Homo sapiens: one gene and its partner. The protein of the gene in region 1 interacts with the protein of each later gene in a pairwise test. Each region holds a gene or a part of one and is shown in the gene's direction. Other genes may lie near its edges. The genes, in order: TSPAN12 and PMP22.

Region 1 (4,038 bases):
TCACCTTTAAAATAGTGATAATAAAAATACCTCTCTCTTCAGGTTGTTAAGAAGATTAAATGATGCGATTTCATTTAGCCTATGGTTATTAACAATAACATTACAAAGTATAGGTGCGTTTAGCATTTCTTACCTAACCGCCATGTAGCACTGCACCCAACCATCTTCTCAAGTGGGGACTGTATTCAGATGTTTAAAATTTGGTGACTTGGAGTTAACCATTGATCTTGCTTCAAACCAAGCTCTTCTTCCAAGCAGTTTCCTTGTGATTGAAGTGACATTCCCAGATGGATAAGTATTTCAGTTTCCTTTAATTTATCTTAGTGCTAGGCCGCAAAGCATTTGAGAATTAGTGTCTTACGTGATAGATAGCAAGATCTCTGCTCACTTACTTTGTCCTGGATATGGGCAGAGGTTCAAGTCCAGGACAATCTCCAAATCTGGCTGTGTACAACTGTTGAGATGGTAAAAATTATCATTGTAACACAGATTTCCTGTTTATTTAAGTGCTTCCTAACTTTGTTTATTTATTGTATATTTGTGCTAAAAACAACACAAAGAGAAAATAAGCATTAGGAAATTTATAGTAAGTTATGTCAGCTACTGTCCTGAGTAGATGCTGCCCAGAGCTCGTTATTTTCTGGAATTTGTGATGTAGACAGTGATAATCCAGGTTAAAAAACAAAGTGAGTTTTTTTCTGATGGAAGCTGCACCTAGATGGACAATGTACAAGTACTGCAAATGATAGCACACTTATTTTTAGATTTGTTACATGGTAAGTTTCCTCCTCCATTATCATAAGACTATTTTATGTAAATGGAGATGGTGAAGACTTCTGAGAACCTGAGGTTTTTAAAATCCCTTATATCCCTTATATTAGTTTGCAATGACTGCTTGCGGATGGCCATCTTCTCCCTGTGTCTTCACTATGTCTTCCATATATATATTAAATATATATATATATTTAAATACCCTCTCCTAATAAGTACATCAGTCATACTGGATTAGGGCCCACCCTAATGACCTTATTTTAACTCAACAATCTCTATAAACTCTATCTCCAAATACAGTCACATTCTAAGGTACTGGGAGGTAGAATTTCAACATATGCATTTGGGTGGGGGACCCAATTCTAGAATAACCTGTATTGCAGAAAGCAACTTTATCAGGTGCCAGTCTCCTTTGCTCCTCATTCAGTGCAATTCTATGCACATACCGCAACTTAGCGGACTCTCACTTAAGCCCCAGTGACGTTTGTTTAATACGTTTTTAGAATACTAACTTTAAAAAATGTGTTTATTTATTTATTTTAACATAGTAGTTGGAGCATAGGCTTTGGAATAGACTGTGCCACACTCTGGCCTGTAACTTTAGCAAGCTACTTGACTGTCAAAGGCCTCAGTTTACTCATATGTAAAATGGATGGTATTTTCTAGAGCTTGACACATTAGCAAGAGTAGTACTATCTCACAATATGATATTAAAGTAGACAGGAAAATGACAAGGAGATGTAGACCACAGTAATATGTTGGTATGATGTTGGGCTTACTTAAAGGAGTTTTCAGAAAAAGTTTCAGAATAAATTCATTATCTTCTGTTGAAGAAGGACAATTATATACAAATGCTTTCTAAAATAAAAGTAAGTTCAGCACTGAGCATCGTATACTTATAATGAGAAAGAACATTATATACTTATATTTGAGAAAGTCATTTATGTAGAATATCTTATTTCCTGACAAAGCCATATAAATAGGCTGTTCCTTGCTGGATGGAGCTAGAGAGTTCCAAGAACTGTTCTGTCATCAACACAGAAAGGACTCATGTCATTAGCAAAGGAGACAAATGGATTTTCTTTGAGTGCAAGAATTTAAAAAGATGGACTTGGAAAGTTAACCTTTCCTTGTTTATGATTTTTATGAAGTGAAGTCTTTATACTACATATATTATTTAAGGATATTTAATGTCTTATGTAAAATATGTGACATCAAATTATTGACTAAATTTGTGATGTTTATAGTATACTCATGACTTTGAGAGCAAGTTTAAAAAGGAAAAATATATATAAAGTATTTTTTAAGTTTCTCAAAATTTCAGTATTACCCATAGCTTTCAGTAATTCGTCATTTATAATACTCTTAAGATGATTTTTTTTTCTGTTTAAAAATCAGACATTTAGGCCAGTGTAACAACGCAAAATACTTTGTGGTATTTTCATTGTTTCCTTTTGCATGAGAAGTTCGGAATTCTTCAAAGTTAATTTTAGTTAAATTTTGAAATGGTGGGGGATTGTGATATTTTATGATGCAATGTCAAACCTGGACATAGATTGATCTGTTGGACTGCATAATTTGCATAGCCAGTCACTCTTGGCAAAGTTCTCAGTGACTGCCCATAGTCCTTGTTTCTGGCTAGAGGGGAAAGAGCAACCTCCTTCTCCACTCAAGGACAGAAAATTATTCATCATAGTTAATTGTTCTGAATCTAATCTATAGAGGTCCTTAAGCAGTGTTTCCAAACCTTGATCAGAGACAGTTTTTGCTAATCTTTGGAGAAATAAGATAAAAAAGTAAAAATGTCAGTATAGTTTTTCTTAAATCCAATTTTATTCAAGCTAAAGGCACACACACCATTTCTTCTGAGATTATGGTAATAGAATATGAACATTTATTTCAAGAATCTTACTCAGTTGAATAAACACCAGTTGGCCAGACCTATGTTTATTTCTTAAAGTTTTTGGATATTTTACTAGCTAAGGAATCGATGTCTGCTAACTTTTTGTGATGTGGGCTTTGGTCAACACATGTTTTTACAAAGATTACAGAAACTTTTAATATAATATTTGAATATGTTGGGCAATAGAAAAATTTGATTAACTGGCCTTTGGTGGTTAGAGGTTTAATGATTAAAGTGTCACCTACTTGGGTTTGTTAGTGTGTATGTTCAATCTGTTGCTATGTATAGTCACTTGTAGATGAGCTTACAGTTAGGGAGTGAGTCTCAGTCATGCCTGATTTGTTTTTATGTGTTATGGGCATTATTACTCAGAATACTTCCATTATGCAATCGTTAGCCATGGTGTTCCTTTACTACATTTCTATCATCAACATAGACTGTACATATATCATTAGGTGATGACAGATATAGCTCTGGGTACAAAAATTTTAAAAAACTGATGTTTAATCTCCTATAAGTTAAGAAAATATTTTTGTGGTTTCTGAGGCTGACTAGTGATTTTTTTTGCAGTTTAAGTGCTGTGGAGTAGTATATTTCACTGACTGGTTGGAAATGACAGAGATGGACTGGCCCCCAGATTCCTGCTGTGTTAGAGAATTCCCAGGATGTTCCAAACAGGCCCACCAGGAAGATCTCAGTGACCTTTATCAAGAGGTGAGGCCATATATGGTTAATTTATTATGGATAAATGTTTTCTTAGGAATAACTTTAAAGAATCAACAATATGCCAATGAAATTTTCCTTCTCTGTCTAAATGTAAAAGGCCTTAAAATTTTTCTCTAATATGGGGAGAAGCAGAAGAAAGCTAAAAAACAATATAAAAATCTAAACATTAATCACATTTTAATAAAGGGAAGTGGGAAAGACCAGGTTTTGTAATTAATTGGATTTTGAACTGTTTTGTTTTGAATCAAGTTCCTACTGCTTGGGGATCCTTTGAAACAGACACAGGCAGAGTATGTAGCTAACACTGGATGTGCAAGAAGCAGAGGGTTTGGAGTTCCTGGACAGAATACGTATTTTAAGAGCCTCCACATAGACCACCAACACATAGAAGGGGAAAAAAAAGAACCTCTCCAAAGAAAATGCTACCATGCTACTCTCCAGCTCCCCCTGCTGGCTAATGATTAGTGATGTCAGTTTTAGTTCACTGATTAAGTTTTATGCTCAGTGGCGGTAAAGTCAATCCTCATGTGGCCAGGAAATTTACATACTTGTGTTTTCTGGGAGAATTGATCAGAATAATCAATTACTCCATTTTAGCAGAAGTTTTCCTATTCATTCATTTTTACTGATTATTTTCA
Region 2 (2,524 bases), on another chromosome or scaffold:
CCTTCTTTGGGCTTCAAATGCAACCTTGGGGCACCCAGGGAAATGGAGCTTGCCTTTGATCATCTTCCCCCTCTGCAGCGTGGCTTCCCAGTCATACTGTCGGCTGCATCCTTATTCCTCACTTTCTTTTTCCCTCTCCACACATTTCTTTGTCTGTTTGGCAGTGCCCATAGGCATTGCTTGCTTCACCTGGTATGTGGCAACTCTGTTAGGGGGACCATAGGCCCCTGTGGTCTGCATGGAGCTTAATCCTTTTACCATGGCGTGACTCCAATAATGGTAAAATGTCACTTCACTTCCATTGGCTTTAGGTAATGCCACCACTCACTTGTAGAGTGGCATATAGATTTCCAGGGGTTTCCATACCCAACCACCCTTGGAAAGAGACAGGTAGGTTTTTCTTGCAGCCTGAATGCCTGCTGGCCATGTAGTGTGGCCTGGGAATTGGTGACAGTGAAAGAAAGAGAAATAGGGCAGAAAATGTAAAGAAAACCCTCAGGTATTAAGGCCTAGGTGGCCAAGATTGGAAATAGAGAGCAAGTTGTTTTCCTTGTTCCCATATTTTTGTGCTACCTCCTTTCAATTCTGGACCTGGAAGCAGATTTCCTTCCAGAGGTAGAAATGTTCTTCCTACCCAGCAATTGTCAGCATCCGGGGTGGCGGAGAGGGGGCCGCTCTGCCATGGACTCTCCGTCACCCAGCTTGTCCCTCTCCTTCCCCAGGTCTGTGCGTGATGAGTGCTGCGGCCATCTACACGGTGAGGCACCCGGAGTGGCATCTCAACTCGGATTACTCCTACGGTTTCGCCTACATCCTGGCCTGGGTGGCCTTCCCCCTGGCCCTTCTCAGCGGTGTCATCTATGTGATCTTGCGGAAACGCGAATGAGGCGCCCAGACGGTCTGTCTGAGGCTCTGAGCGTACATAGGGAAGGGAGGAAGGGAAAACAGAAAGCAGACAAAGAAAAAAGAGCTAGCCCAAAATCCCAAACTCAAACCAAACCAAACAGAAAGCAGTGGAGGTGGGGGTTGCTGTTGATTGAAGATGTATATAATATCTCCGGTTTATAAAACCTATTTATAACACTTTTTACATATATGTACATAGTATTGTTTGCTTTTTATGTTGACCATCAGCCTCGTGTTGAGCCTTAAAGAAGTAGCTAAGGAACTTTACATCCTAACAGTATAATCCAGCTCAGTATTTTTGTTTTGTTTTTTGTTTGTTTGTTTTGTTTTACCCAGAAATAAGATAACTCCATCTCGCCCCTTCCCTTTCATCTGAAAGAAGATACCTCCCTCCCAGTCCACCTCATTTAGAAAACCAAAGTGTGGGTAGAAACCCCAAATGTCCAAAAGCCCTTTTCTGGTGGGTGACCCAGTGCATCCAACAGAAACAGCCGCTGCCCGAACCTCTGTGTGAAGCTTTACGCGCACACGGACAAAATGCCCAAACTGGAGCCCTTGCAAAAACACGGCTTGTGGCATTGGCATACTTGCCCTTACAGGTGGAGTATCTTCGTCACACATCTAAATGAGAAATCAGTGACAACAAGTCTTTGAAATGGTGCTATGGATTTACCATTCCTTATTATCACTAATCATCTAAACAACTCACTGGAAATCCAATTAACAATTTTACAACATAAGATAGAATGGAGACCTGAATAATTCTGTGTAATATAAATGGTTTATAACTGCTTTTGTACCTAGCTAGGCTGCTATTATTACTATAATGAGTAAATCATAAAGCCTTCATCACTCCCACATTTTTCTTACGGTCGGAGCATCAGAACAAGCGTCTAGACTCCTTGGGACCGTGAGTTCCTAGAGCTTGGCTGGGTCTAGGCTGTTCTGTGCCTCCAAGGACTGTCTGGCAATGACTTGTATTGGCCACCAACTGTAGATGTATATATGGTGCCCTTCTGATGCTAAGACTCCAGACCTTTTGTTTTTGCTTTGCATTTTCTGATTTTATACCAACTGTGTGGACTAAGATGCATTAAAATAAACATCAGAGTAACTCACTGGTCTCTCTTGAGTTTTTGTGGGAACTTGGGTGTGGGTACAAGGTGCCTGTTGGAGCAGGATGAAGAGCTTCAGTGGAAAGCAAAGTTGAGCTGGAGATTTGGGTTACAAGATGGTGCTAAGGCACCAAAATCATAGCTGTTTTACAAGCTACAGGGAGCACATGATGCCTTCATGATGTCTGTGCAAAGGTTTGCTAATTGGAGACAGTTGGGAATTGCAGCTGAAATGGAGGCTGTAAATGGACTGGAAGGCACTTGAGTATTCATTTAGTTCAACCCTCTCTGGTGCTCTGTTGTTTGATGACCCACATGGAAAACATGGAGGCATGTCATGAGCTGCCCTGATATACTGGGAATGTTGGCAGAAGCATCTCAGATCCCTCACCCTGAGGTATGATATGGTGAAAGGTCTGAATGATGGTGACTTGAGGCCACACTTGCAGATAAAACATTGGTTGGCACCAACTAAGCTCCTAATGCCATCCTGAAGGAGAGAA

What was found.
Region 2: the proteins of TSPAN12 (region 1) and PMP22 interact in binary tests that used the Homo sapiens proteins (3 or more experiments, as listed by UniProt).

What each region holds. Positions count from the first base shown.
Region 1 is NC_000007.14:120,805,899-120,809,936, reverse strand, and holds part of TSPAN12 (tetraspanin-12), read left to right. Parts: intron 1-3,244; coding exon 3,245-3,388; intron 3,389-4,038. UniProt on the Homo sapiens protein: Regulator of cell surface receptor signal transduction. Plays a central role in retinal vascularization by regulating norrin (NDP) signal transduction.
Region 2 is NC_000017.11:15,229,279-15,231,802, reverse strand, and holds the end of PMP22 (peripheral myelin protein 22), read left to right. Parts: exon of another isoform or gene 1-722; coding exon 723-886; 3' UTR 887-2,024; downstream 2,025-2,524. UniProt on the Homo sapiens protein: Might be involved in growth regulation, and in myelinization in the peripheral nervous system.